7 linked regions of the Homo sapiens genome follow. The protein of the gene in region 7 purifies or fractionates together with the protein of the main gene of each other region. This does not show direct contact. Each region holds a gene or a part of one and is shown on either strand. Other genes may lie near its edges.

Region 1 (3,500 bases), on a different chromosome or scaffold from region 7:
TAGCCCTGGAGAAGGCAAGGTTTTCTGTCCACACCCTCTCTCTGCTTGCACACTCTGGGCCTTCTTAGCTTGATCCTCTTTCCTGTCCAGCAGCTGAGGGTCCATCGTAGCTGCAGACATTTGTGGACGGCCGACGTCGGATGACATGTTACCATGACACAAAACGACAATGACCACGGCACCACACCAAGAATCATCTACCTCTATTACAACCAGACATTTGCACTCAAATAAGGAGGTGCTGCCGTATACTTATCCGTTGCTGGAGGCAGCATGAATGGGAACCAGACACAGCTGGAAAGCAATCGGGTAACAGAGCGCCAACCCTGTACATATCAGAGGCATTATTGCCACAGTGAAACACAGGAAACGACAGACACTTTCGGTGAGAAGACAATGACTTAGAAAAGCAGAGCAGAGTGGGGACAGATCACCTGAGGTCAGGAGTTCAAGACCAGCCTGGCCAACGTGGTGAAACCCTGTCTCAACTAAAAATACAGAAAATTAGCTGGGCATTGTGGCAGGCACCTGTAATCCCAGCTGCTCGGGAGACTGAGACAGGAGAATTGCTTGAACCCGGGAGGCTGAGGTTGCAGTGAGCCGAGACTGTGCCACTGCACTCCAGCCTGGGTGACACAGTAAGACTCCGTCTCAAAAAAAAAAAAAAAAAAGCACAGCAGAGCTGCAAGATGGACAACTGTGCTCCCATTACAACTGGAAAGTAAGAAAATCGTGGCTATGTAATAAGGTCAAGTACAAAAAGCAGACGGTAAACTGCAATCCATGCCTTGGAAAAAAAGAAAAGTGAGTTCTGCTTATGGACAAGGACTCACAGGGACACAGAAAAATGAGGTTCGATTTGTCGGGGGGGCAGGTCACAGAGGGATGTTTTCTTTGCCTTGGATCCCTGACAATGGGAGAGCAAACGCATTTCAGGAAATAATAAGAAAAGATGTGGGTTAAAAGGTGAGCTCAGGTGAGGAAATAAGAAAAATCCAGGTACCCTGTGCAGCAGTGGGTCTGCAGGTCTGCTTGAGCACACAGGCCTCCCGGGCCCATTCTGTGCACGTGTCTGGGGCCATGTGAGCTCATGTGTGTTGGTGTGCACGAAAGGTATGCGTGCTCTCCTGTCTGCGTGTGGAGATGTGCGGTTCTCTTTGATCTGGGCCAAGGTGCCAGGGAGCTAAGGAGGGCGAGGACTCTAGGAGGAGCCACTATCGATGGGAGGAGTCTGAGCAGGAGGAGAGTGAGGTGTGGGGGAGGCAGCCATGTGGTCACAGCTGACTGGGCCACCCACAGACCTGTTCTCACGGTGCGACCTGGAGGCAGAACAGATCCTGGTTCTGCCATAGCTCCCTGTGGGATCTTAGGTAATTAGTTCAACTAAGGATGATGATGTGGCTGTGATGAGAGCAACAATAATGGTAATAGCTGGTATCCACTGCGTGCGTGCGTCTGCTGTGCCCCGGGACAAGCCTTCTTCCTTCTCCATCAGGGTCTGGGTCTGGACGGGGCTGGGTCCACCTTCCCACTGGTTAGCTGTGGGAATGGAGTGTGAGCAGCAGCCTCCCTGCCTTGGAGTGGGTGCTGGACAGGCACCCCCACCTCTCTGCCCTCCCCCTCCCTGCCTGCTGTACTGGGCATCTTGGAGCAGAAGGCTGTTCCCAGCAGGGATACATACGGTTGGAGGTGAGTCTGTCTGCTCCCCCGAGAGCATTGAAAGCTCCGTGGATGTTCTGGACCTGTGGAAAAATGCAGTGAGGGGATGGTCCCCAGGACACCTCCACCTCCAGGCCTGGCCCTGGTTGTGGGGGATGGCCAGGTACCACCTGGTCTAGGAACCCTACCAATGTGTAAAAGGGGGCTCCAGCGGATTTGTGGGGAGCAAGAGGCAGCAGGGGCCTGGCACATAGTAGGCACAAGCTTGTTTCCCATCTCTAGCCCCTACTATGTGCTGCTCCATCCTGGCCCCTTCATATAATTTCATTTCATGCCCCTAATGATGTATTATTGGGCCCATTTTACAGAAGAGCAAATCAAGGCTTGGAAAGACACCAAAACTTGCCCGGCTGGTAAGTGGCTAAGCTAAACTCTGAAATCAGGTCTGTCTGACACTAAGCTGGACTCTTTCCATGAAGTCACACAGAAAATTCAAGTGAACATGGATTCTGGGTCCCAGAAAGTTTCTCCTGAGATCCCAGGGTCCTCTGAAAGGCCCATAGAGGAGTCCAGGCAGGGATGCCCCAGAGCTGTGGGCCCCCCATCATGTCTGCTGCAGAGAACGTATAGCAGATGTGAAGAAAACCCTCCTCCGGGCAGTGGGGTGGGCTGCTGTAGAGTAGGGCTGAAAACCACATCTCACCTTTTCTCTGAGGACAATGGGAAACCAGGTTGGCCTCAAGGAACATCTAAAGAAGGACAAGGCATACCTGGTAAATGGAGCATGCTACCATGGGCATGGTTAACAGGGGTTATCGAGCTAGACACCCTGGAGGCCTTCCTGGAGGAAATGACATTGACACCAAGATCTGGAGGAAAGTGGGAAGTTAAACTGGCAAGCAGCATGTACAAAGGCTTAAGTATGGAGACAGGCCCACGTGGCCCCCAGGAGGAAGGAGAGTGAGGTGTTTGAATAGAAGGAAGGAGGAGACATCGGAGAGGTACGTGGGGACATGATTCTGTGGCCACTCCAGGAGCAGTGGGCAGCAGCGGGGTGGCATAATCCCTGATCCTGGTCTCAGGCGGCTGATGTTTACTGAGCACTTAACACACCTGCATGTTCTCAACAAGCAATTCCTCAACAACTGGAAGGAACTGCAATTTCTCAACAAGGAAAAGGAAGTTTGTCTATTTGCTGTCTTGAGACTGACCGTGTGAAGGCTTCATTTCTAACCCATGAGAACGGTGGTTACAGAGACAAGAAGGCTAGAATGTTCTCTTCCATTGTCATGTGACATGGCTTTATCTCACATTTATTTGTACCATTTATTTTTATTTTTATTTTTTCTTTTTTTGGGAGGAGTCTTACTCTTTCTCCCAGGCTGGAGTGCAGTGGCATGATACCAGCTCACTGCAATCTCCACCTCCCAGGTTCAAGTGATTCTCCTGCCTCAGCCTCCTGAGTAGCTGGGATCACAGGTGCCTGCCACCACGCCCGGCTAATTTTTGTATTTTTAGTAGAGACAGAGTTTCACCATGTTGGCAAGGCTGGTCTCAAACTTCTGACCTCAAGCAGTTCGCCCGCTTCAGCCTCCCAAAGTGCTGGGATTACAGGAGTGAGCCACCGCACCTGGCCTGTACCATTATTTGATCAACATCTGTCTTCCCCCCTAGACTGGAAGCTCCAGGTGGGCAGGGACCATGTTTGTCCTCACCAAGGTATGCAAGGCCTGGACACGGTAGGTACTTTGTAAATATTTGTTGACTAGATGGATGGACAGAAAATGAATGGATGGATGGGCCCTAAGCTAAGTTCTGTACATTTTTTTAAAAAAATCAGA
Region 2 (3,500 bases), about 12 Mb from region 7:
TCAAACTCCTAAAAGCAGCCAGAGTCTATATACTTAGTGCTTAGCACAGCGTCTGGAACACAGCAGATGTTGGGTAAATGCTGAGTGAGTGAATGAGTGAAATAATTTCTAATAAGAAGCACTTTGATCAGGTATGACATTTCTGGAAGTGAATCCTTGGCCATACATCTGTATGCTCCAGGTTCTCCAACCAAAGCACGAGGGAGATGGCAGCTTCTGGAAAGGCTGGGAAATCAGGTGAATGTAAGGTGTGGAGATGGTGCGCTGACTGGTAGGTGGGCTTCTAACAGTCTAGAGTGGGGTTGGCAAATTATGGCCCAAAAGCCAAATCCAGCCCAGCACACAGCCTGCTTCTGTAAATAAAATTTTAGTGAAACACAGTCATGCCCATTCATTTACATAGTGTCTATGGCTGCTTTTGCACTGTTACAATAGAGTTGGTAGTTATGACAGAGACCTGAAGTATTTACTAGCCTAGTAGAGAAAGTTTAGAGAACGTTTGTTGACTCCTGGTCTTGAGCATCATGGGGATGAGAATGCTTGGTTTGGGGTATAAAGTGAATGCTCATTTTTATAGCTGTTATACTGACTACACCTCTAAGAAGTATAAGATGCTTTAATTGGTATTTTGAGCATCAGATGAGTTTAAATTTACTATGCTAACAACCCTAAACTGAAATAAAATTCAAGGTAGGCTTTTAGGGTAGTAGTGATGCAAATCATAGAAAACACACACAACAATCTATTAAAAATAAGCCACAACTTAAATCTAAATAAACATAAATGTACCAAAGTTGGTCGAGAAGCACTGGATTCTGATTGCTGTGGTTTGATAGGTGTTCGCCCATCATACTGAGGAAGCGGAGTTGGGTATAACACCGTGGGCATCTCTATGTTTAGTCCAGGGAGTCCGTGAAACATGAATTTCTAATAATGATGAATAAGGACACACACACACACACGAAACCAAAAAAACCATTAATCATAAACCATTAATCATAAAATAGAACTATTTACCATGTCTGGATCACAACACTCATAGATAATGTTCAAAAGCCTACTAAGGAAATATAAATGAGATAGAAAATAGATACCTTGAAGGCATAGGGCTTAAAGAAGAGCTGAAGTTTATCTGGCCTCCAGCTGGATTTGGTTTGGTCAGATCAAATCAGGTCTGGTTTTAGTTTCCTTATTTATTTATAAAATTTATCCAATTACTTTATCTGTCTATAATTTTTTAAACAAATTTATCATTTTTATTTACCTATCTCCACCTATAGCTATCTCTCTATTTGATGTGGGAGCAAGAGAATGCCACAAGGAAAGAATTACTTCTTACTTTGCTGGCTGAAGAAGCTGGGTCCCCAGAGATGCTGGCCTGACTTTCCGACTGACTGGCACGCTCGGAAGCTGCCCATTGACACACGTCTTGGTTGGCCTGTCTACTACTTGGAGGAGAAAGCCAAGGAGAAGCACTGGCTCTTCTTGTACAAACAAGTACAACATAGTCTATAATTAAATATTCTATAGGTCATACTCCCCTACCGATTCCCTTCCTAAGATTCATAAATAATTTTAAAATTTTGATGCATTTATTAAATGGAGATTTATTTTCTGTTCTTAATATTAAGTGTCTTTGAATATGAACATTTTTGTCTACTCTCTCAAAATATATGTAAGAACTTTTAATACCTCAAAGTTAGCCTTAGAATAAGGATGTAAAGTGGTCCTTGTACCATGGGTTGAAACAGGAAAGACAATGATCATATGAAGACTTGCCTTACCTTTAGCACAGCTAAAAGTGCTCCAAGTTCATCAGTCTGTGTTAGTTTCATTCTCCCACCATTTAGAAGTGACTGTATACCTTTTAATGCATTTTGCAATAACTAGGGGGAAAAGGGAGACCCAGTTAGAAGGCAGAATAAAATCTGGTTGTCCAGGAATCAACTTACTAGCACCACTTAGGATGGAAGAGAGACAGTCTCTAGATGATGAAAAAAAACTTTATTATAGACACACATATACACACACAAAGCAGAAATGAAGATCTAAGGAGACCTAATAAACTACCATGAATTCTTTTCTAGAAGAAAAGAATAATGAAGTGGTCTTATTGTACATGTTTATAAACCACTATGTACAAATGGTGAGCAAGAAAAAAGAGAGAAGATGTTTAGCAAGAAAAATGTGACAAGGGATAAAAAAGATAGCACAGATCAGAATTGGGAAAGCTCTGTAATATGGCAAACCCAGCCCTCTTAAAAGCAAGGGGATGTATGTGGGAACTGCTGATAAATTATAGAAACTTGGTTTCTGGAGGGCAATTCTGACCAAGATTGATTTCTTGACTCAGTAATCTCATTTCTAGAACTCTCTCCTTAAGAAACACTTCCGACATTGGGATGATGTGAACTGTAGCCTTGTTTGAAATAGTGGGAAAATTTTAAAAACTTCAATTTTGATGATTATGATAATGATTATAAAAGAAGCTAACCCTCTGCTAAATGTAAAACTCAACAACAATAACAGTAGGCCCTTTGAATGCTTTATTTCATATACTTCTCATAAGAACCCCACAATGTGGTTATATCAGTCCCTTTTCAGGGAGGAACACAGAGGCTCCAAGAAGTTAACTAACTTGTCCAAGGTCTTCCAGCCATAGCAGTTAGAAACTATGAGGTATATTAACAGGAACCGAATAGATGTCCCAGAGATATTAAGTTTTAACAAAACAAGAAAGTTACAAAACAGCATGTTAAATATGATCCCACTTAAAGCTGTAATTATGCTCATTTACATATAGAAAAAAAAATCTGAGGGCACACAGCACAAATTGTCTTCAGTGGCTATATCCGAGCAGGAGACTAGAAGGAACTTTATCTCAGCTATATAACATTTGAAATGTGTTACTCTAAATTTAAAAGATGTTAATAAACTGTCGTTTGCATCGTATTTTTAAAAAAGAAATAAAATATTGCAGATATATTTGGTGAAATCTCTCTTTACTTTCATCTTAAAGATAGTCACTAGCCTGCAACTATTGCTTTTATACTCAGAAGGAAAAAGAATAGTTTCCTCTAAAAATCTAGAATTGCAAAATATAACAAATAAAAAGCTTCTTATAATTTAAACCGAAATGGTATGATTTTAGTCTTTTTAGGTTACAAACATTTCATATATGTGTATTTCTCTAGACGAAGCTAATGGTGCAAATTAAACTCGTTAGTAACACTTTTCCAATCTGCTTCTAGACACATCCGCAACATTCACTACGTCAATGATAGTCCACTTACCATGCAAAATGTGATATCATCCATATCAGATGATTTTGGAGACTGTAAAATAGTCAGAAAAGCTTGGAAACAGACATTTTGGTAGGGCTCCTCCAAATACGGCTGTCCTGGCACACTAAACGCATACAGAGAAAACAACTCAAACTCAGTCTCCTTTAAAATGAGGCTTGCAAAAGACTAATTAAAAATAGCAGTAATATAGACTAT
Region 3 (3,500 bases), on a different chromosome or scaffold from region 7:
CTAACAAAGACTAAAATCAAGCCCCAACAAGTTTTTGAAGGGATTAAAAATGTGAGGTTGAGTTACACTAAAGTAAGGAAACAATGGGTTCTCCACATATCATTCTAGCAAAGAGTAAAACCAAGCCTACACAAGTTCAAAGTTATCTGCCAGTAACTGAACTACCTGCAAGAATTTTTAAAATCAACACTTTTCACAAAAATACAAAATCCAGAATCTCTATAATATACCACCTACAATTAAAAAGTAGTAAACATGCAAAAATAAATAAGCAGAAAACTGTAACCTACAGTCAAATAAAAGCAGTCAATAGAAACCAACCCTGAGATGGCTGGGCGTGATGGCTCACACCTGTAATCCCCGCACTTTGGGAGGCCGAGGCACGCAGATCACTTGAGGTCAAGAGCTTGGGACCAGCCTGGCCAACAGGGCAAAACCCCATCTCTACTAAAAATACAAAAATTAGCCAGGCATGGTAGCAGGCACCTGTAATCCCAGCTACTTGGGAGGCTGATGCAGGAGAATCACTTGAACCTAAGAGGTGGAGGTTGCAGTGAGCCAAGATCATGCCACTGCACTCCAGCATGGGCAACAGAGTGAGGCTCTCTCAAAAACACAAACAAAAAAGAAACCAACCCTGAGATAGCCAAGGAGTTAACTCTTACAGACAGAAACCTTAAGATTGACTATCATAAATATTTTAAAGGAATTAATGGAAAATATGTTCAAAAAATTAAAGGAAAATGCATTCAAAGAACTAAAGAAAAATATATTCTTGATGAGTATATAGATGGGAAATATCAGAGAAATGAAAACTATAAAAAAGATAAAAATGAAAACTCTACGACCAAAACAATACAATAAGAAATGAAAAATCTATTGGATGAGATTAGAAATGGCAGACAGGCAACAGTGAACCTGAAGATAGATCAATAGAAAATATATAATCTAAAGAACAGGGAGAAAGAGATATGAGTAAAATTAACTTCTCAACAGAAACACTAGAGAACAATGAAATGATATCTTTTGTATGGTCAAAGAAATGCCAACCCATAATTCTATATTCAGCAAAAATATCCTTCAAACACTAGGGTGAAATAAAAACACTTTCTTATAAACAAAATCAGAGTATATTCTTCACCAACACACCTACACTATAAGAAATGCTAAGGAGCTGGGCGCAGTGGCTCACGCCTGTAATCTCAGCACTTTGAGAGGCTGAGGCAGGCGAATCACCTGAGGTCAGGAGTTCAAGGCCAGCCTGGCCAACATGGTGAAACTCCATCTCTACTGAAAATACAAAAATTAGCCGGGCATGGTGGCACACACCTGTAATCCCAGTTACTCAAGAGGCTGAGGCAGGAGAATCGCTTGAACCTGGGAGGCGGAGGCTGCAGTGAGCCGAGATTGTGCCATTGTACTCCAGCCTGGGCGACAGAGCAAGACTCCGTCTCAAAAAAAAAAAGAAATGCTAAAGAATGTTCTTTAGGCAGATGGAAATCAATATGACTATAAAATCAGATCCAAAGGAAGAAGGGCAATATCAAAGATAGTAAATAGGTGAAAATAAGAGACTATATTTCACCACTTCATACCCACTAGAATGGCTATAATCAAAAGACAACTATAACAAGCATTGGCAACTACATAGAGAGACTAGAGCCCTCATTCACTGCTATAAGATGGTACAGCCACATTGGAAAACAAACTAAACAAAGAGTTACCATATGATCCAATAATTCTACTCCTAAATATATACATGAGAGAAACAAAAACATTTGTCCATACGAAAACTTGTACATGAATGTTCACAGCAGCATTATTCATAACAGCCAAAAAGTAGAAATGACTCAAATGTTCTTCAACTGATGAATGGATAAAATGTAGTATAGCCATACAATGGAATAATATTCAGCAATAAAAAGAAATGTTGTACTCATACATGCTACAACATGGATGAACCTAGAAAATATTACACTATGTAAAAGAAGCCAGTCCAGAGAACCACATACTGTATGATTCCATTTATATGAAAGGTCCAGAATAGGAAAATCTACATAGTCAGAAAGTAGATAACTGGTTGCCTAGTGCTATGGGAGGGGGGAGTTGAGGAGTGTGACGGCTAAGTGGTGAGAGGTATCTTTGTGGGGTAATATGTACATCTCTGAGAATATACTAAAAGCCATTGAAACGTACACTTTAAATGTGTGAATTTTATGGTACGTGAATTATATTCAGTGAAGTAGTTTTTTAAAAACATACCTTTCCTTAAAGACAACTGACTGTTTAAAGCAAAAATAACAACAAATCACAAATACAAATAAAAGATATGCTGAAAGAAACCACTAATAATAATAATAACAATGAGGAGTTAATTGTTGGCCATAAAAGGTGACTGTAATCCCAGAACTTTGGGAGGCTGAGGTGGGTAGATCACTTGAGGCCAGGAGTTTGAGACCAGCCTGGGCAACACAGTCAGAGACTAGCTCTACAAAAAAAAATTAAAAATTAGCTGGCTGTGGCAGTGCACACCTGTAGTCCCAAATTCTGGGGTGGCTGAAGTGGAAGGATCCCTTGAACCCCTGAGTTCAAGGTTGCAGTGACCTGTGATAAAGCCACCACACTCCAGCCTGGGTGATAGAGTGAGATCCTGTCTCTTATTTAAAAAAAAATAAAAATAAATAAAAAATAAAAAGCTACCGGCTAATAGGCCAATACTTTAAAAAATCCAATTATTTCAAAATAAGGCAGGAAAGGAGCAAAAGAACAACAAAAAAACCAAAGGAATACAAGGAAACATGTAGACTTAAACCCAATGATATCAATAATTAGATATAATGGACTAGTACACCAATTAAAAGGCAGAGATTGTCAATCCAGATAAAATGGCAAGACCCAGTGAAGTAGAGTCTCCCAGAGACAGACACAAATTGGTTGAAAGTAAATGGATGGGGGCCAGGTACAGCAGCTCACTCTTGTAATACCTACATTTTGGGAGGCCCAGGCAGGAGGATCACTTGCGCTCAGGCGTTTGAGACCAGCTTGGGAAACATAGCAAGACCCCATCTCTACTAAAAATTAAAAAAAAAAAAAAAAAAAAAACCCCAGGCGCAGTGGCTCACGCCTGTAATCCCAGCACTTTGGGAGGCCGAGGCAGGAGGATCACGAGGTCAGGAGATCGAGACCATCCTGGCTAACACAGTGAAACCCTGTCTCTATTAAAAATACAAAAAATTAGCCAGACGTGGTGGCCCGTGCCTGTAATCCCAGCTACTCGGAAGGCTGAGGCAGGAGAATGGTGTGAACCTGGGAGGCGGAGCTTGCCGTGAGCTGAGATCGCGCCACTGCACTCCAGCCTGGGCAACAGAGCGAGATTCCATCTCAAAAAATAAAAATAATAAATACATAAATAAATAAATAAGCCAGGTGTGGTGCCATGCACCTGTAGTCCTAGCTACTCAAGAGGATGAGGCAGGAGGATCATTTGAGCCCAGGAGTTT
Region 4 (3,500 bases), on a different chromosome or scaffold from region 7:
AAGCTGATCGGAGTTCATTTAAGGAGATATAATGGTGCTAATACTACATAGCAATTAAACACCATATTTCTCACCTCAAACAAACTCCATTCTAAAATCAGTGATACTAGCCCTGTTTCTGTAATTTAGTCTTTGGGTAAGATTCAGGGATAGCTTTCCTTTTAGGAACACTTAATATTTTTGATTGAAGGCTGTTGTTTTTTTAATGTGAACCTCAAGCTGAGGAAATAAAATGTCTGACAAATAGGTCAAAATCAAATATTGTGCTAAGGAGCTGCAATGGATTTTGACTTTATTCACAGGTTAGTGTGTGACATCCAAGAAAACAGGTACAATTTTGTGGGTTACTCGAATCTAGGAAAACATAGTGGCTTTCAAGTAAAGAAGAAAAAGACAAGTGAAAAGAGCAGAAATCAATCAACATGAGATTAAATTTCAGTCATTCCAGAATTGGCTCCCATAAGATATTAGGCAGCAGGCACTTAAGAGAAGGCTTTTTGAAAATTTTTCCAAAAGGAGAAAGGGGAATTAGTTGCAAAAGTTTTAAAGCAGAATACTATCGAGTCTATTAATGGGAGCTGTTTGGCAGCTTCTTTATACACGCTGCTTTTCTACTTACATAGGCACCAGCTCCTACTGTTGATAAGCCCACAATAAGGACTAACACAGAATTATCGATTTTGCCCCCTGATGCACCAGAGCTAGCCATTTGTCTTGTCATCTGGAGTTCTAGAGGAACATGCCATCGCTGGAACAAGTTGCCTAAGAAACATAATTTATTAAGACACACACATACAAAAATAAAATAGTTAATACATATTTATGATTAAATGTCAATGCACTGTACAAGACTTATTGCCCACAGATATTCACCGTTAAATGATCAAGAAAAATATCATCAAAACTGCATATATAAATACTACAGACAGCTGAATGAACGCTCTTAAGTTGCTGAAGTTTTTAAGAGTAAAATTTAATGCTGTCCAGTGAGAAAATTTTCAGCTTCCAGAAAAGATCATGAAAAACACGAACAGTTCATCAAATACCTCTTCCTTCATGTCTTTCCCATAAATTAAGTAAACACAGAGAGATGACTGAATAGGTAGATATACAAAGTTAACCATGGGCTACCTGGGACATTATAACAACCATTTAAGGAGTAATCTAGATGGTTCCAATCTTGCACAAAATAAAACGCAACACTCTAACCAGGACACAGTTCAATCTTGCATGAAAGGTAATGTGTCCTGGAATACAGAAATGTTAAAGCTCAGAAGAAAATCAGAAAAAAAAATTTTAATGAGTTTCTCTCCCCCAAAGAACTAAAAAATTTTGGACTATGAAATATTTTTTATAATGACAAAATGTGAAGTGTCCAGCAACTCCTTGACTCTTACTCCTCCAAAATAATACAAAGGTTATTTTGACGTAAAACTATGCAGAGCTATGTAATGATGTGATGATCATAACAGCACCTGTACATAGAAATATAAGAGTTCTGTAGATTTCTTTTTCTAGGGAGACGCTGACATTTTCAGATAAAGGAAGGTCTCAGTCTCTGATTATTCTGTGATTACTCCTCGTGTTTGTTGACTATCAACCTAGAGCAGCAAATTTTTTCTGCAAAGAACCAGATGGTAAATATTTTCAGCTTTCTGGGCCATTTGGTGTCTGCTGCAACTACTCAATTCCACTGATGCTGCATAAAAGCAGCCAAAGACAATACATAAATGAATGGATGTGGCCATGTTCCAATAAAACTTTATGGACACTGAAGTTTAAATTTTATATAATTTTCATGTGTCACGAAATTCTTTTTTTTTTCAGCCGTTTAAAAAATGTAGGTCAGGCGTGGTGGCTCACGCCTGTAATCCCAGCACTTTGGGAGGCCTAGGTGGGCAGATCACGAGGTCAAGAGATCGAGACCATCCTGGCCAACATGGTGAAACCCCGTTAAAAATTAGCTGGGCAGGTGTGGTGGGGCATGCTTGTAGTCCCAGCTACTCGGGAGGCTGAGGCAGGAGAATCGCTTGAACCCGGGAGGCGGAGGTTGCAGTGAGCCGAGATCGCACCACTGCACTCCAGCCTGGCAACAGAGTGAGACTCCGTCTCAAAAAAAAAAAAAAAGAAAAGAAAAAAGACCAGGTGCAGTGGCTCACGCCTGTAATCCCAGCACTTTGGAAGGCCGAGGAGGGTGAATCACCTGAGGTTGGGAGTTAGAGACCAGCCTGACCAACATGGAGAAACCCTGTTTCTACTAAAAATACAAAAAATTAGCCGGGCGTGGTGGCTTATGCCTATAATCCCAGCTACTCGGGAGGCTGAGGCAGGAGAATAGCTTGAACCCAGGAGGCGGAGGTTGCAGTGAGCCGAGATTGTGCCATCGCACTCCAGACTGGGCAACGAGAGCGAAACTCCATTTCAAAGAAAAAAAAAGAGAAAAAGAAAAAAGAAAAAAAATGCAAAACCCACTCATGGCTCCTGGGGCATACAAAAGCAGGTGACTGACTGGCTTTGGCCTGTGGCTGTAGTTGGCAGACCCCGATCTAGAGCAGTGGTTTTCAAACTTGAGAGTGTATCCCAATGCCCTGAAGGTTTTATAAAACAAAGCTGGCCAGGCCCCAGGCCCAGAGGTTCTGATTCAATAGATCTGGGATGGGGCTCAAGAATGTGCATTTCTAACAAGTTCCCAGGGGATGCTGCTGTTGCTGCTGCTGCTGTTAGGGTGGGGACCACACATTGAGAACCATCTGTCTAGAGCAGGTATATCCTATCTTTTGGCTTCCCCGAGCCACATGGGAAGAAGAAGAATTGTCCTGGGCCACATATAAAATACACTAACACTAACCATAGCTGATGAGCTAAAAAAAAAAAAAAAAAAAAAAAAAAAATCGCAAAAAAATCTCATAATGTTTTAAGAAAGTTTACAAATTTGTGTTGGGCTGCAGGTTGGACAAGCTTAGTCTAGAGGCTGATACTTATGTCCCTGTCCTGTCTAGGCTTTAAAAGACAAACAGAATGGACACTGGTAGTAGCATCCCATGTATACTTGCAGAGATTAGAGAAGGAATTTCCCCCTTGCTTTCATAACGTTAGGCCACAGACGGGTAAAAACAAGCCCAATGTGGATCTGTGGTCTCTCATCTGAAATCCTGGGGACCATGTATAATTTGGAACTTTGAATTATCTGGTCTTAAGTATATGGGGCATATACCACATAGTGACACCTAGCAAGGTAAAGGGCAGCAATTCATAGTTAAACATATTAATATGACCAATCACGCTAAGTGATATTTTAAAAAGATTATAAAGTAGCCTCTCTCCAGTTCAGGTCAGGTTTTACTGGCAAATGAGTTATGAAAACTTGATAGTCTTAAATTTTGGTCATTCTACAATTTCAATTTCTGAATTACAGATAAGAGACTTTAGATCTACACTCTTAGAAAAGGAAATGTATTTTTCTTTACTGTTCTTCTTACCTGCTTTTAGAACTCTTCATC
Region 5 (3,360 bases), on a different chromosome or scaffold from region 7:
TTTATATGAAGCTTGGAGGACAAATAACAGACAGGTTTGAGCCTAACAGATTTGTTTGAATCCCAAATTTACCAATGACTGCTTGTGTGACCTACTAAACTAAGCTCCAGGAGGGCCAGGCCAGGTGTCTTATTCAACCACAAAATCCCAGCGCCCCCAGCATGTGAGGCAAATTTCCTCCATCAGCATAGGAATCGGATGACCTGGGAAAGGGAGTATTGTTAGTTTTCCTAGCGCCAGCTTCAATAGGGATTGGGGTTATTTAAAAATACAGGAGAAAAGTAAGGAGGCACTCAAAAACAAAACACAAAACCCACATTGATGGGGGTATGTCAAAGGTGGGAACAGGAGATAACGGAAAGAGTTCCCAATGGTCAAAGCTGGGATAATTTGAGCAACAAAATAAAGCAGTATTAAATTGTAACCCAAAGTATAAAATATTCATGTGTCCACACTGATAAACATAAATGATCGAACTAATAAAGCGAAAGGGACAACTGTCCTTTGCAGAAGAATTTCAATTAATCATGTAGACCACTCCCAAGAAAGTACACTACAACTCCCCATTCCTTTAGTGTGGGCTGTGCATAGTGATTTCCTTCCAAAGAGCACAGTATGAAATGGGGGAAAAGAGTAACTTTACAATGGAGAAACCTGACAAACACTCCTTCAGCCAGGTGATCAGGTCGTCAACATCAACATCAATAACAGTCATAACCTTTTATTTCATGTCATAAAATGGTGACACTTACTTGTGTTAAAAAAATTTAATAACAATGTAATCATTATATCTCTGCAATCAGCTGAAGTTCTAAGAAAAAATGACAATGTTGAAAGTTGTATCATCATTATTATAAACTTTCATGTTCAGTATATGTAAACTCCAAAGCCAATTTCAAAAGATATTTTTGTGAAATACCATTCTTTAAAAAAAAGGATATTATATATAACTGTATGAATGTTAAATGTTTTACAGTACTGATTTGCTACATTTTATGTATGCTGTAAAACAAATACCATTTTAAAGTATATTGGAATTCGTAACTAAAGTAATAAATAAATGCTTGAAATATACCCAGTAGAAACTTATTTTTATTATCCAATCCTTTTGATAAGAAATGCCTCTAGTGTTATGTACAAACTTGATCTTCTTGGAAACGTGTTGTCCACTGCTTTTCTGTTTCTGTCACAGTAGCTATAAACAGCTGTTTAAGGATATCCTTATCTAAATTTCTGCCTGCAAACAAAACAAAATATGACGTGATTACATTATGCTTATTAAAATGACACAGTTCACCTATCAATTCCAGTTCATTAAATGCTTTATGGTGTTTAGAAATTTACAAAAAGAATAGTAATTGAGTGATTCCATCTTTAACTTTCCAGGTCAGTACATCAAAGTCACATTGGTCCTTGGATTAACCACTTTTCTAAAACTGAAGAAGAACAAAAGTCCTAACAAGCTTTTACGAACGTTGTAACGTGATAAAGATGAAACATTGACCACAAGCTTATTTAGTTTTAAAAGAGGACCTGAATGGTTAATCTGTTTAAGTGGCACATGATATCCCTTTCAAATATATTTTTCACTTTGTTTTAAAACTGTGAATCCTTTGAGACTTACCAAGGAGGACCAATCGATTTGTTCTCTCAGTGTCATCCTTCCAGCTCACTGGAGTCTCCTCCAGATCATAGAGCTCATGGACACCCTGGACAATCACTTGTTGTGATTTGTCTTTGATTGACACCAATCCCTGCTCAAAGGAGAATTGACTGAACATTAATCAGCCTCAGTTCAAACTTAAAAGCAGAAATAGAGCATCAATGTTAATGGATTAATTACTGATATTCACTTAAAAAATACAAACTCTTAAGCTGAGAAAATTACTTAATTCCAATTATTTGTGAATTACAAGAAGTTTCTTAATGTTTTTAATTTTCAAAAAAGGTTTCTGTGTATTGATTTTCTTTTTGAACAATCCCCTTTTCTAATGATAAAGTTAATACATATATTAGGATGGTTTTTCAGTGTTATTTATCACAACCAAAACCTGAAACAAAATGATGAAATATGTATCATATCCTATTGATTAAAGATTTTATATAATGTTTCACAGTTTTCGTGGGAAAAGTTGAGAAGTTAAAGGAGTTTGGTTATATTAAATAATTTGTTTTAGAAATGGGTTGCAATCAATGAACAATGATGAAATAAAGAAAAACTATTATATTTATCTGAATATGAGCTCATTGTGTATTGATTTGCAGAAATGAGAAACGAATTATCTGATAAACTGGCTCCTATGGGGATGAAATTAATTTATTTGAAATAATATTCTTAATTTACCAAAAACTTTGTGCACACTTGTGAACACACAAGAGTAGACACTCAACTGACTGGTTAAGCATACACTTTAGAATCACTGCTTCCTAGAAGAAATACCTTTCATGACTTAAATACCCAAATATCAAGTAACGTGAGTGGGTTTCTAAATACAGAACAAGAATTCTTCTAGTCCTTTGTAACTTTGTTTAGAGTATGACAAATGTTTAGTGTCTGCTAAATGCATCAGGAAGCATAATGTTCAGCAGAAGTGAGATTTGCAACATTATTTCTCTGTACTTGGGAACAGAGAGCAGAAGGTAACATTTCAAAGCACACAGGTTTGTTCTAGCTGCAACCCTAAAGAAAGTTGTGCAAATAAATCAAGCCTTATGCAGTGATTTCCAAAGCTCCTTTTCAGTCACGAAAATAATAAAGAAAAATGAAAGTAGACAAAGATGATTTGTACTAAAACAAGTGTTTCTGTTTAAAACCAAATATAGTTTTTATAACAGCCAAGAAAAGGACTTTGTCCGAAAGTCTGCAACAGTAAACTGTACCTTCAGCCTTATGACCTCCATGCAGTGATTGTCCTTGTTTCTCACATTCTTTTCCCACAGGAGATTCTGTATCAAGTGACATATTTTAATAAGACCAACCATCGCTAATAGCAACAACTATGTAACAAAACCATTGATAAATCATTAATCAGTTAAAAATTGCATTCACCTGAATAAACATATTAAGATGTTCTTCCTTTGCATTTCCTGGTACTTCAAATGTGATTGTAACAATACTCTGTAAATCAAGGGAAATAACAATAATTCTTTATAGTAATATCAATGTTTTTTAAATCACAAATTTTAAGATGAAAAGGAACATATTCATGGAATTTTACATTGCTTAAACCATATATATTAGGTATTATACTTTCCTCAGCATATGTGCTGTTTTTTTGGAATTAGCAACTCCATTTCCTACATTCTGCACAGGTACCAATGGATTTAGTATTTACACAAACTACTACCTTGTATTTTAAA
Region 6 (3,500 bases), on a different chromosome or scaffold from region 7:
AAATGTGATTTCCTTCAGTATTTTTGTTTTGGCATAACAACTGTCTGGAAAAAAATTTGTATTTGTACCAGGCAGGGCATTGGCAGATACTGGTACCATTTGATTTGTAAATCAACAAACTGGATTGTATGACCAAAGTGTTTTTATTTATTTTTTTGTTTCTGTTTACTTTTTAAGAGACAGGGTCTTGCTCTGTTGCCCAGGCTGGAGTGCAGTGGTTCAATCATGGTTCACTGGAGCCTCAACCTCCCAGACTCAAGTGATCCTCCACCTCAGCCTCCTGAGTAGCTGGGACTACAGGCACAACCCACTACGCCCAACTAATTTTTATTTTTTATTTTTTATTTTTTTGAGACAGAGTCTCGCTCTGTTGCCCAGGCTGGAGTGCAGTGGCTCGATCTCGGCTCACTGTAAGCTCCACCTCCCGGCTTCACACCATTCTCCTGCCTCAGCCTCCCGGGTAGCTGGGACTACAGGCACCTGCCACCACGCCTGGCTAATGTTTTGTATTTTTAGTAGAGATGGGGTTTCACTGTGTTAGCCAGGATGGTCTCAATCTCCTGACCTCATGATCCACCGGCCTTGGCCTCCCAAAGTGCTGGGATTATAGGTGTGAGCCACTGTGCCCAGGTATTTTTGTTTTTTTATAGAGATGAGGACTCCCTGTGTTGCCCAGGTTGGTTTCTAACTCCTAGGCTCAAGCAGTCCTCCCGCCTCAGCCTCCCAAAGTGCTGGGATTACAGGAGTGAGATATTACACCTGGTTTCAAAGTGTTTTTAATACAAGAATGAGGATTGCACACTGATAGCAAGGGTGTGGGGGGAACAAAGAATGAGGCTACTTAAGTGGGACTAATTACTAACCATCGGACTACATTGACAAAGACTAATTTTTTTCTTAATGTTCTCAATTTGGGATGAGATAGACAAAGTATGAGCAATCTGACAGTTTACCTATCCTAATTATTCTGAAATCATATTTATCCAAAGTTAAGATTTCCATTAAATTATTGTTGATGTACTTAATATTACAGGAAGGAAATGTAACATTTGCCTTTCTCAAAATTCACTTAAATCTTTTTTGTATGATTTTATATAACCACAGTATCATTCGACTATAAATTTATATTAATCAATTTATAGGCCGGGTGTGGTGGCTCACACCTGTAATCCCAGCACTTTGGGAAGCCAAGGCTGGCGGATAACCTGAGGTCAGGAGTTTGAAACCAGCCTGACTAACATGGTGAAACCCCATCTCTACTAAAAATACAAACATTTGCCAGGTGTGGTGGTGCACCCCTGTAATCCCAGCTACTCAGGATACTGAAACAGTGGAATCTCTTGAACCTGGGAGGCAGAGGTTGCAGTGAGCTGAGATCGCACCACTGCACTCCAGGCTGGGTAAGAGTGAGACTGCATCTCAAAAAAAGAAAAAAAAAATTTATATGCATGAATTTTTTTTGTTGGTCTTACTGCTCATTTGTTATATACATGAATTTTAATGGCATTATTGTGTTCACCTATTGATAAAATACGATTTGCATAGATATTCCTCTGTTGAGCATCAAGGTGGTTTCTGATCACTAATTGCTCTAATCTTTCTATAATATTTAAGAAGTATTGATTCAATGAGGGAAATAACAGGTTTTGAGGTACGGAGAGGAGACCTAGAATAGGAAAGAATATGAGCAACAGAGGCCGGGCGCGGTAGCTCACGCCTGTAATCCCAGCACTTTGGGAGGCCAAGGCAGGCGGATCACGAGGTCAAGAGATCAAGACCAGCCTGGCTAACATGGTGAAACCCTGTCTCTACTAAAAATACAAAAAAAATTAGCTGGGCGTGGTGGCGGGTGCCTGTAATCCCAGCTACTCGGGAGGCTGAGGCAAGAGAATGGCGTGAACCTGGGAGGCAGAGCTTGTAGTGAGTTGAGATCGCACCACTGCACTCCAGCCTGGGCGACAGAGCGAGACTCCATCTCAAAAATAAATAAATAATAAAATAAATATCTATCTATATATATATATATGTGAGCAACAGTGTTTTACACCTTTGTTTATTTAGGGACAATAAAATGTTTTTATCAGCGGCTCGGTTTCCTCATTTATTTTTTGCTCCCCAGGCCTTTACAAAAACTTCTAGTGTCATAGAATTTGAATTGTCTCAACTGTTGGGTATGGGATGCGATTTTGAATGATGGCCACTTTGTGTCTATAAAGGTGCTGTTGTCAAGACCAATGCCAATGCAGAGAAGACAGATGAAGAAGAGAAAGGTAACACAGCCGTGGAGCTTTATATAATAACAAGCTTCTACATTCTAAGAAAGTGGATTGTTATGAGGCTTCATTTTTATACCCAGTTTGGCTTGACTTTAATAGGCGATACAGTGCTAGCATAAAGGTTCAATATAGGGGCCGGGCACGGTGGCTTACACCTGTAATCCCAGCACTTTGGGAGGCCGAGGTGGGCAGATCACGAGGTCAGGAGATCGAGACCATCCTGGCTAACACGGTGAAAACCCGTCTCCACTAAAAATACAAAAAAAAAAAAAAAAATTAGCCGGGCATGGTGGCAGACGCCTGTAGTCCCAGCTACTTGGGATGCTGAGGCAGAAGAATGGCATGAACCCGGGAAGCAGAGCTTGCCATGAGCCGAGATCGAGCCACTGCACTCTAGCCTGGGCGAAAGAGCGAGACTCTGTCTCAAAAAAAAAAAAAAAAAAAAGTTCAATATAAATAGTCAGTAGGTGAAGGAGTTCTAATGGTTTACGTTTAGAGAAATTTTACATTTAACAACTGAACAGTTGAATAGGGCATTATAAAAAATTTTCAGTTGCATCTCTATTGTCCAGTAAAATTAAGCTTAATGTTATTTTGACACATTTGACATGGATGACGAGACCAACTTGTCCAATATTAAGGTACAGACTTTGTTAATTCCTGTTTTTTTTTTTATTGTTGTGATTGCTACATTAATTACTTTAGGTTTATATATAGTACAAATTGGGGAGTAAATATGTGGGTCTGGATAGGAGGAATAGATAACTGCAGGAAAAGAGGGCTGTTAGAATAGAGTCTGGAAAAGAATATGAGGCCTAAATGGGTGATGTATCATAACTTTTTTCTTTAATAAAACTATTTTAATTTATAAGTCAAAACTATGACGTACCTTGAATTTGAATGTTCAGTACATTATTATTTAAAATACAAATGGCAGTTGAATTAGAGTAAACGCCTGGTAGGTTTCAAGGACTTTTTAAAATTCTTTGCTTTCTTTTTCCTGACAGAGGACAGAGCTGCCCAGTCCTTACTCAACAAGCTGATCAGAAGCAACCTTGTTGATAACACAAACCAAGTGGAAGTCCTGCAGCGGGATCCAAACTCCCCTCTGTACTCGGTGAAGTCTTTTGAAGAGCTTCGGCTGTGAGTATTTATTCACCTTCTGACTCTTCCCCTTTGCACTGAAATAGAGATCCTAGGTCTGTTATAGATATCTTTTGACCA
Region 7 (4,009 bases):
CTCTGACCAAACTCCCTTTATCAATCCTAGAAAAATTACTGAAATCTGGAGGAATCTTTAAGATTTAACTGGTATTAAATTTATGCATTTGAGGTTTGGAAATTTTTTTTTTTTGGAAGGAGATGGAGGGTGGTGAAGGAGAGACAGGTAGGAGGGAACCAGGAGAATGCAGGTCTCCACTAGTTTTAAACACTTCAAGAAGAGAATAAAAAATTCCCCTCCTCTTCACCCCGCTGTAAACATCACCTGGCTGTGCTCATTGTGGCTCTCTAGAGAGATATAGGGAGTTATTTAAGTCTGAGTGAGTGAGCCAGCTACAGCTATGGATGGCTAGAGAGAGGATAAATACATCTAGAGAGATGAGAGGTAGGGAACGAATATAAATATGGAGAAAGATGGACGAACAGAGAGATGGATTGAGACAGAGAGAATATAAAGAGAGGCTGAGGGAGAGAAATGGATGTGTGAATGAGGAGAGAACATTTATGCAAAGAGAGAGAGAGGGAAGATGGGGCATTTCTCATCCTTTTCTCCACATTTCTGTAGTCCTGCCTTGCTCCCTGAAATGCCAATTTCCCACCCCTGGCTTCATGAATTCTTCCTCTAGATTCTAGATCCTGCCCCACACCCTTAGGTGTTTTTGCACCACCTTCCCCCACCTCCCCACCACACAGTCATCCATTTGGCCCAAGATAACATACCTCACCCGGCTGTCCTAGCCCACCACCCTAAGACAAATTGGAAGAAAGGAACATGGTTTGGGAGTTCTGGGCAAAGTATGGAAGCTGGATTCCCCACCTCCAGGTCCACAGACTTAGGGGGAAGGTTTCTCTGAGGGGTGGGAAGAGTGAGGGGCAGCTGGCTTGAATTTGTCCAAATCTAATAACCCAGGAGCCTATTGAAGGCCTTGGGGGTTGGGAGGGAAGGAAAGTCTTGAATATTCTCCTAACTTTTTCCCCCTCTCCCTCTGGTCCCTTCTTTCCAAAAGTCTTTGAAGAAAGATGTTTTTGACGCTTCCATGTCGCTCTCAGATGGATGGGCTGCGGGTGATTGAAGTGTCTTTGTCATGCTAATGCTTGGGGGGTGATGGATGGGCGCTGGGGCTGCCAAACTCTGGCCCGCTTAGCCCATTGGCCTGGGAGAGATCACATGTGCCCCCTCACCCCCACTCCCTACCCCCTTCCTAGGGAAGCGCTTGCCCAGGCGAGCGGGTCAGGCCATGGATTCGAGCCCCAGCGCTGTGACATACTGCCGAAAGGTTGTAGGGCAAGAGGGTGTCTCCCCCAAACGGGCCGACCCTCCTGCGGCCTTGACGCATGGACTATAATAGGATGAACTCCTTCTTAGAGTACCCACTCTGTAACCGGGGACCCAGCGCCTACAGCGCCCACAGCGCCCCAACCTCCTTTCCCCCAAGCTCGGCTCAGGCGGTTGACAGCTATGCAAGCGAGGGCCGCTACGGTGGGGGGCTGTCCAGCCCTGCGTTTCAGCAGAACTCCGGCTATCCCGCCCAGCAGCCGCCTTCGACCCTGGGGGTGCCCTTCCCCAGCTCCGCGCCCTCGGGGTATGCTCCTGCCGCCTGCAGCCCCAGCTACGGGCCTTCTCAGTACTACCCTCTGGGTCAATCAGAAGGAGACGGAGGCTATTTTCATCCCTCGAGCTACGGGGCCCAGCTAGGGGGCTTGTCCGATGGCTACGGAGCAGGTGGAGCCGGTCCGGGGCCATATCCTCCGCAGCATCCCCCTTATGGGAACGAGCAGACCGCGAGCTTTGCACCGGCCTATGCTGATCTCCTCTCCGAGGACAAGGAAACACCCTGCCCTTCAGAACCTAACACCCCCACGGCCCGGACCTTCGACTGGATGAAGGTTAAGAGAAACCCACCCAAGACAGGTAGGGCTCAGATGTGGCCACCCCTTCTCCGGGGCCCAAAGCATCTCTGCTTCCCCTGCAGTGACATGTCCTGGGTCTGGGCTGGGTTCTTCTCTTTCAGCGGCTCTGGTAGACACAGGTAAGAGCACAACCTACGTCTCAGGTCAGGTGAGGTCTCCCCACCCAGTATGTAACCGGTCACCCCAGGAGTAAGTTTCCATACACACCCCACTTCCTGATCTGTGCACCCAGCACAGACCCAGGACCTGGTGTGCATGGGGGATGGAAGTATGGGGAAGGCTGCTCCAGACTTGGTGATCACCATGGGGGTACCTGGTGGTCCCTGGGAACTTTGACAACTGTACTTGGGCAGAATGGCAAATGGAGGTCCAGAGCCAGCCCCGGGAGGAGGGAAGCGGAAGGAGAAAGAGGTGAGAGAATTGACCTGGCCTTTCTCCCTGCCCCGCCCCTAGCGAAGGTGTCAGAGCCAGGCCTGGGCTCGCCCAGTGGCCTCCGCACCAACTTCACCACAAGGCAGCTGACAGAACTGGAAAAGGAGTTCCATTTCAACAAGTACCTGAGCCGGGCCCGGAGGGTGGAGATTGCCGCCACCCTGGAGCTCAATGAAACACAGGTCAAGATTTGGTTCCAGAACCGACGAATGAAGCAGAAGAAGCGCGAGCGAGAGGAAGGTCGGGTCCCCCCAGCCCCACCAGGCTGCCCCAAGGAGGCAGCTGGAGATGCCTCAGACCAGTCGACATGCACCTCCCCGGAAGCCTCACCCAGCTCTGTCACCTCCTGAACTGAACCTAGCCACCAATGGGGCTTCCAGGCACTGGAGCGCCCCAGTCCAGCCCTATCCCAGGCTCTCCCCAACCCCAGGCCTGGGCTTCACTGGCCTGGGGATCCTCTCTAGGGCTGAAATGCCAGTTTAGAGCTGCCTGGGGGTGGGAGGGGGGATGGGGAAACATTTTTCTCAGACCTGGGTGGCTGGGGGCCCTACAGGACCAGAGGCCTGGGAGGCATGGAACCTGTCAAATGTAGAGGGAAGGGCTTCTGCCTTTGATCTGGGGATCAGCTCAGTGTCAACATGTGGTGGGGGTGGGGGCCAGCCTCATCCTCCTGGATTCATCCTCCTTTCCCTTCCAACTTGGGTTTATTCGGTTCAGTGCCTTCGAGCTTTGAGGAGTCTCCTCACGCACTCTTATCCTAACTCCCCCTTCTAGGCCTGACACAGAACCTTAAATTTTCTTGTGTGGGAGGTGTTTGGGTGCAGCCATATTATTATCAATGCTTAATCCAGTCACCACAGACCTTACAATAGCACCAGCTGCCTTGTGACAGACCAAAAAGCCCCCCGCCCCCATCTAACCCCATTAGCCCTCTCCTGGCATATTTATATTGCACTAATGCAGCCTTCAGAGGTTGTTTTCTGAGACCTGCCTCCTCACACCAGCGACCTCATCACTATGTCACCAAAGTGTTTTGGAACTTGGTATTCCAGAGACTTCTGGAACGCCGTGCAAGGCCTGCCCCCAGCAAGCCACAACCAGGAAGGTGCAGGCACGCCCCCACTAGCTCCTCCCCTATTTATTGCCTCCTGGAAAACCCAGGACCCTCTTCCCCATCTCCACCCCTACCCCTGGGGGCAGCCCAGGGAGAGCCAGGCACAATGAGGGCTCCCAACAGCTGCAAGGATTTATCTGAACCTTTGAGAAAGAGGAGGAGCCATCTAAGTTTCTGGAAACCTGAGCCCCAAGTGAGCCCGGGTTCTCTCTGTACCTGCAACTACCTCATTTCAATAAAGTCTGTGTTTTCCCTTCTTCCTGCCTGCTTCTGTTTCTCCATTCAGGGGTAGAAGAGGCCTCATACTCCGTGCACCGTGGAGAAGAGGTGAAGAAAGAGTGGCCATTGGCTGGTTGGGCTGGAATGAACTGAGCTTTAAGATCTCAGCTGGATAAAGAGAAGGACTTACTGGGTGTGGCCTAAGCAGGATTGGGTCCCAGGCATTCAGGCTTGACAGTTGTCAGTCCCTTGGTTATTGGGAGAATCCAGAAAAGCATGGAAGAAGTCTGTGGAATGAATGCAATTCCCAGAGATTTTTCTTTTTCTTTTCTTTTTTTCTTTCTTTCTTGCT

The links.
Region 1: the proteins of HOXB1 (region 7) and ERGIC1 purify together in Homo sapiens (affinity purification with mass spectrometry; one large-scale study listed by BioGRID and IntAct). This does not show direct contact.
Region 2: the proteins of HOXB1 (region 7) and HEATR6 purify together in Homo sapiens (affinity purification with mass spectrometry; one large-scale study listed by BioGRID and IntAct). This does not show direct contact.
Region 3: the proteins of HOXB1 (region 7) and MNAT1 purify together in Homo sapiens (affinity purification with mass spectrometry; one large-scale study listed by BioGRID and IntAct). This does not show direct contact.
Region 4: the proteins of HOXB1 (region 7) and AIFM1 purify together in Homo sapiens (affinity purification with mass spectrometry; one large-scale study listed by BioGRID and IntAct). This does not show direct contact.
Region 5: the proteins of HOXB1 (region 7) and ZNG1A purify together in Homo sapiens (affinity purification with mass spectrometry; one large-scale study listed by BioGRID and IntAct). This does not show direct contact.
Region 6: the proteins of HOXB1 (region 7) and DDX19B purify together in Homo sapiens (affinity purification with mass spectrometry; one large-scale study listed by BioGRID and IntAct). This does not show direct contact.

Annotation. Positions count from the first base shown.
Region 1 is NC_000005.10:172,924,751-172,928,250, reverse strand, and holds part of ERGIC1 (endoplasmic reticulum-Golgi intermediate compartment protein 1), read right to left. Parts: intron 1,743-3,500; coding exon 1,682-1,742; intron 1-1,681. UniProt on the Homo sapiens protein: Possible role in transport between endoplasmic reticulum and Golgi.
Region 2 is NC_000017.11:60,068,922-60,072,421, forward strand, and holds part of HEATR6 (HEAT repeat-containing protein 6), read right to left. Parts: intron 3,409-3,500; coding exon 3,294-3,408; intron 1,887-3,293; coding exon 1,785-1,886; intron 928-1,784; coding exon 790-927; intron 1-789. UniProt on the Homo sapiens protein: Amplification-dependent oncogene.
Region 3 is NC_000014.9:60,741,261-60,744,760, reverse strand, and holds part of MNAT1 (CDK-activating kinase assembly factor MAT1), read right to left. Parts: intron 1-3,500.
Region 4 is NC_000023.11:130,155,842-130,159,341, forward strand, and holds part of AIFM1 (apoptosis-inducing factor 1, mitochondrial isoform AIF precursor), read right to left. Parts: intron 763-3,500; coding exon 620-762; intron 1-619. UniProt on the Homo sapiens protein: Functions both as NADH oxidoreductase and as regulator of apoptosis.
Region 5 is NC_000009.12:120,337-123,696, forward strand, and holds the end of ZNG1A (zinc-regulated GTPase metalloprotein activator 1A), read right to left. Parts: intron 3,119-3,360; coding exon 3,050-3,118; intron 2,947-3,049; coding exon 2,881-2,946; intron 1,755-2,880; coding exon 1,625-1,754; intron 1,238-1,624; coding exon 1,131-1,237; 3' UTR 501-1,130; downstream 1-500. UniProt on the Homo sapiens protein: Zinc chaperone that directly transfers zinc cofactor to target metalloproteins, thereby activating them.
Region 6 is NC_000016.10:70,312,686-70,316,185, forward strand, and holds part of DDX19B (ATP-dependent RNA helicase DDX19B), read left to right. Parts: intron 1-2,216; coding exon 2,217-2,270; intron 2,271-2,954; exon of another isoform or gene 2,955-3,283; coding exon 3,284-3,419; exon of another isoform or gene 3,420-3,457; intron 3,458-3,500. UniProt on the Homo sapiens protein: ATP-dependent RNA helicase involved in mRNA export from the nucleus.
Region 7 is NC_000017.11:48,528,212-48,532,220, reverse strand, and holds HOXB1 (homeobox protein Hox-B1), read left to right. Parts: upstream 1-1,209; 5' UTR 1,210-1,316; coding exon 1,317-1,893; intron 1,894-2,345; coding exon 2,346-2,674; 3' UTR 2,675-3,695; downstream 3,696-4,009. UniProt on the Homo sapiens protein: Sequence-specific transcription factor which is part of a developmental regulatory system that provides cells with specific positional identities on the anterior-posterior axis. Acts on the anterior body structures.